Homo sapiens: one gene and its partner. The protein of the gene in region 1 purifies or fractionates together with the protein of each later gene. This does not show direct contact. Each region holds a gene or a part of one and is shown in the gene's direction. Other genes may lie near its edges.

Region 1 (2,318 bases):
CTCAGTAATCAGGCAGTGAATTTTCTATAGATTTGTAGGAAGTCTAGGACAAGATGCATATTGTTGGCATGCTGTATACTTCAGAATGCTTAGTTTATTAATCAACAAAGGAGTCATATCTTTTTGTCACTAATGTCCTCAAAACAATCCCAACCAATCTTACCGCTAAAATTGTATTTTATTATTTTATTTTTATTTTTTACTTTGTAAGCAATCAAAGACAATATGTATCTTATATAGTATAAGGTTTTCTATCTCTGAACTAAAGACAAACTACATGTTATATCCAGTTCAGATATGCAGCCAGTAACTGAAGTAGGAAAATCAATATCGCTTTTCATTTTCCAGTGGAAACTGGAACCAATACAAACTTTTTCTTGCCCAGAACATCATGAGTAATCATTGTTAAACTGCTAGGAAATGCTGTGTGACATTGTTAGCTAGAGTCAGTATGTATGTAATCATGTTTTAAGGAATTAACTCACAGTATATCTAGCTACAAATAAAGCTAGTATACTGTCCTATAAATTTTTCTAAAAACTAATCTGTAGTTCTAAAAACTTAAATGTCACTCTTATTTTCCCTTACTTTTTTTTAAAGGTACCTGAAATGCTGCACAATGATGCTAGTGACCATGGATGTAGCCGCTGGGGGTATTTCTTTTTACAGAATGCTGGGATGCTTTTGGGTTTTGGAATTATGTTACTTATTTCCATATTTGAACATAAAATCGTGTTTCGTATAAATTTCTAGTTAAGGTTTAAATGCTAGAGTAGCTTAAAAAGTTGTCATAGTTTCAGTAGGTCATAGGGAGATGAGTTTGTATGCTGTACTATGCAGCGTTTAAAGTTAGTGGGTTTTGTGATTTTTGTATTGAATATTGCTGTCTGTTACAAAGTCAGTTAAAGGTACGTTTTAATATTTAAGTTATTCTATCTTGGAGATAAAATCTGTATGTGCAATTCACCGGTATTACCAGTTTATTATGTAAACAAGAGATTTGGCATGACATGTTCTGTATGTTTCAGGGAAAAATGTCTTTAATGCTTTTTCAAGAACTAACACAGTTATTCCTATACTGGATTTTAGGTCTCTGAAGAACTGCTGGTGTTTAGGAATAAGAATGTGCATGAAGCCTAAAATACCAAGAAAGCTTATACTGAATTTAAGCAAAGAAATAAAGGAGAAAAGAGAAGAATCTGAGAATTGGGGAGGCATAGATTCTTATAAAAATCACAAAATTTGTTGTAAATTAGAGGGGAGAAATTTAGAATTAAGTATAAAAAGGCAGAATTAGTATAGAGTACATTCATTAAACATTTTTGTCAGGATTATTTCCCGTAAAAACGTAGTGAGCACTTTTCATATACTAATTTAGTTGTACATTTAACTTTGTATAATACAGAAATCTAAATATATTTAATGAATTCAAGCAATATATCACTTGACCAAGAAATTGGAATTTCAAAATGTTCGTGCGGGTATATACCAGATGAGTACAGTGAGTAGTTTTATGTATCACCAGACTGGGTTATTGCCAAGTTATATATCACCAAAAGCTGTATGACTGGATGTTCTGGTTACCTGGTTTACAAAATTATCAGAGTAGTAAAACTTTGATATATATGAGGATATTAAAACTACACTAAGTATCATTTGATTCGATTCAGAAAGTACTTTGATATCTCTCAGTGCTTCAGTGCTATCATTGTGAGCAATTGTCTTTTATATACGGTACTGTAGCCATACTAGGCCTGTCTGTGGCATTCTCTAGATGTTTCTTTTTTACACAATAAATTCCTTATATCAGCTTGACGTCAGATGTCTGGTTTTCTTTTTAAAAAAAAATTTTTTTTACCATTGGAACCATTTTTAACTGTAGAGTTCAGTAGTTTTAAGTATATTCATGTTGTGCAATGAATCTCCAGAACTTCTTCATCCTGCAACACTGAAACTCTATACCCACTCAACGCCAACTCCCCATTTTCCCTTAGCCCCTGGTAACCACCATTCTACTTTCTGTTCCTAAAAAATTGAGCTATCTGAATTTTTAAATTATCATCTGGATTGTAGTATACTAATCAATTCATTTATAATATTGTATTGGGTGGCCTTATTCAATTTTTAAATTGTTTATCACAAAGGACACTTCAAAAAATATTGGTCCACAGTTTGTTTTCGGGTGTCTCTCTTTTTTTTTTTTTTTTTAACAACTGGACCTAAAGCTGTAGAAGAAGCATTATTAATATTCTACACTCTCAAGAGAGTCAGTGTTTTAATTCAAGATTTTTACGATGGAGAGCTTGTGATGAGACTCA
Region 2 (3,436 bases), on another chromosome or scaffold:
TCTGAGATGTTACTGTGCTCCTTGCAGGAGGTCAGGCAGTTCTCCAGGCTATTTGTACCGATTGCCTACTCCTTGATCTGTGTCTTTGGCCTCCTGGGGAATATTCTGGTGGTGATCACCTTTGCTTTTTATAAGAAGGCCAGGTCTATGACAGACGTCTATCTCTTGAACATGGCCATTGCAGACATCCTCTTTGTTCTTACTCTCCCATTCTGGGCAGTGAGTCATGCCACCGGTGCGTGGGTTTTCAGCAATGCCACGTGCAAGTTGCTAAAAGGCATCTATGCCATCAACTTTAACTGCGGGATGCTGCTCCTGACTTGCATTAGCATGGACCGGTACATCGCCATTGTACAGGCGACTAAGTCATTCCGGCTCCGATCCAGAACACTACCGCGCAGCAAAATCATCTGCCTTGTTGTGTGGGGGCTGTCAGTCATCATCTCCAGCTCAACTTTTGTCTTCAACCAAAAATACAACACCCAAGGCAGCGATGTCTGTGAACCCAAGTACCAGACTGTCTCGGAGCCCATCAGGTGGAAGCTGCTGATGTTGGGGCTTGAGCTACTCTTTGGTTTCTTTATCCCTTTGATGTTCATGATATTTTGTTACACGTTCATTGTCAAAACCTTGGTGCAAGCTCAGAATTCTAAAAGGCACAAAGCCATCCGTGTAATCATAGCTGTGGTGCTTGTGTTTCTGGCTTGTCAGATTCCTCATAACATGGTCCTGCTTGTGACGGCTGCAAATTTGGGTAAAATGAACCGATCCTGCCAGAGCGAAAAGCTAATTGGCTATACGAAAACTGTCACAGAAGTCCTGGCTTTCCTGCACTGCTGCCTGAACCCTGTGCTCTACGCTTTTATTGGGCAGAAGTTCAGAAACTACTTTCTGAAGATCTTGAAGGACCTGTGGTGTGTGAGAAGGAAGTACAAGTCCTCAGGCTTCTCCTGTGCCGGGAGGTACTCAGAAAACATTTCTCGGCAGACCAGTGAGACCGCAGATAACGACAATGCGTCGTCCTTCACTATGTGATAGAAAGCTGAGTCTCCCTAAGGCATGTGTGAAACATACTCATAGATGTTATGCAAAAAAAAGTCTATGGCCAGGTATGCATGGAAAATGTGGGAATTAAGCAAAATCAAGCAAGCCTCTCTCCTGCGGGACTTAACGTGCTCATGGGCTGTGTGATCTCTTCAGGGTGGGGTGGTCTCTGATAGGTAGCATTTTCCAGCACTTTGCAAGGAATGTTTTGTAGCTCTAGGGTATATATCCGCCTGGCATTTCACAAAACAGCCTTTGGGAAATGCTGAATTAAAGTGAATTGTTGACAAATGTAAACATTTTCAGAAATATTCATGAAGCGGTCACAGATCACAGTGTCTTTTGGTTACAGCACAAAATGATGGCAGTGGTTTGAAAAACTAAAACAGAAAAAAAAATGGAAGCCAACACATCACTCATTTTAGGCAAATGTTTAAACATTTTTATCTATCAGAATGTTTATTGTTGCTGGTTATAAGCAGCAGGATTGGCCGGCTAGTGTTTCCTCTCATTTCCCTTTGATACAGTCAACAAGCCTGACCCTGTAAAATGGAGGTGGAAAGACAAGCTCAAGTGTTCACAACCTGGAAGTGCTTCGGGAAGAAGGGGACAATGGCAGAACAGGTGTTGGTGACAATTGTCACCAATTGGATAAAGCAGCTCAGGTTGTAGTGGGCCATTAGGAAACTGTCGGTTTGCTTTGATTTCCCTGGGAGCTGTTCTCTGTCGTGAGTGTCTCTTGTCTAAACGTCCATTAAGCTGAGAGTGCTATGAAGACAGGATCTAGAATAATCTTGCTCACAGCTGTGCTCTGAGTGCCTAGCGGAGTTCCAGCAAACAAAATGGACTCAAGAGAGATTTGATTAATGAATCGTAATGAAGTTGGGGTTTATTGTACAGTTTAAAATGTTAGATGTTTTTAATTTTTTAAATAAATGGAATACTTTTTTTTTTTTTTTAAAGAAAGCAACTTTACTGAGACAATGTAGAAAGAAGTTTTGTTCCGTTTCTTTAATGTGGTTGAAGAGCAATGTGTGGCTGAAGACTTTTGTTATGAGGAGCTGCAGATTAGCTAGGGGACAGCTGGAATTATGCTGGCTTCTGATAATTATTTTAAAGGGGTCTGAAATTTGTGATGGAATCAGATTTTAACAGCTCTCTTCAATGACATAGAAAGTTCATGGAACTCATGTTTTTAAAGGGCTATGTAAATATATGAACATTAGAAAAATAGCAACTTGTGTTACAAAAATACAAACACATGTTAGGAAGGTACTGTCATGGGCTAGGCATGGTGGCTCACACCTGTAATCCCAGCATTTTGGGAAGCTAAGATGGGTGGATCACTTGAGGTCAGGAGTTTGAGACCAGCCTGGCCAACATGGCGAAACCCCTCTCTACTAAAAATACAAAAATTTGCCAGGCGTGGTGGCGGGTGCCTGTAATCCCAGCTACTTGGGAGGCTGAGGCAAGAGAATCGCTTGAACCCAGGAGGCAGAGGTTGCAGTGAGCCGAGATCGTGCCATTGCACTCCAGCCTGGGTGACAAAGCGAGACTCCATCTCAAAAAAAAAAAAAAAAAAAAAGGAAAGAACTGTCATGTAAACATACCAACATGTTTAAACCTGACAATGGTGTTATTTGAAACTTTATATTGTTCTTGTAAGCTTTAACTATATCTCTCTTTAAAATGCAAAATAATGTCTTAAGATTCAAAGTCTGTATTTTTAAAGCATGGCTTTGGCTTTGCAAAATAAAAAATGTGTTTTGTACATGAAGTAGGAATCGTATTTCAGCTTCAAGGTTCAGATTGAGGGGCCCACTGTTTGGAGAGGATGGTATTCAGGCTTTCTCATGTCCTTCAAATCTGTTAGCGTTTGACTCTAGAAATCAAAGCAAAGGAGTGGTTACCCAGACACTTCTTTTGGTGTGATCAATGCGCTGATGTGATCTATGAAGATGATTCATGCTTGAAAACTAGCACAGAAACATCTTGCTTATTTGCCAAAGCTGGGAGATGAGCTTCTCTGCATAATTTAAATGTTCAGATAAATGAAGCTGACTTATTTAAGCAATAACCTTTTAAACATTTTAGCTAAGATGTATAAAAATGTTTCCAAAATATACCACATACTTTATTTCTTCTTAAATGTAGTACATTAGGTTACATCATTTTTCTTGCTGTCTTGGGCATCAAAACAGGTGCCATGGTAACCTGACACTCTCAGGAGACATTAAGATAGAAGGGGCTGTTCTTCAGTGGTTCCCATTGATTCTCCCCATATCTTTTTGCTCTCAGGCTCTGGCCGTCTCTTCCTGAGCCTTAACTGTGTCTGCCGTTAGTCCTCCTCTCCACTCATTGCAAACATTATTCTATATGTTTGGTGGGGACA

Evidence for each region.
Region 2: the proteins of SLC39A6 (region 1) and CCR6 purify together in Homo sapiens (co-immunoprecipitation; one large-scale study listed by IntAct). This does not show direct contact.

The regions. Positions count from the first base shown.
Region 1 is NC_000018.10:36,108,028-36,110,345, reverse strand, and holds the end of SLC39A6 (zinc transporter ZIP6 isoform 1 precursor), read left to right. Parts: intron 1-600; coding exon 601-753; 3' UTR 754-1,815; downstream 1,816-2,318. UniProt on the Homo sapiens protein: Zinc-influx transporter which plays a role in zinc homeostasis and in the induction of epithelial-to-mesenchymal transition (EMT).
Region 2 is NC_000006.12:167,136,321-167,139,756, forward strand, and holds the end of CCR6 (C-C chemokine receptor type 6), read left to right. Parts: coding exon 1-1,035; 3' UTR 1,036-2,821; downstream 2,822-3,436. UniProt on the Homo sapiens protein: Receptor for the C-C type chemokine CCL20. Binds to CCL20 and subsequently transduces a signal by increasing the intracellular calcium ion levels.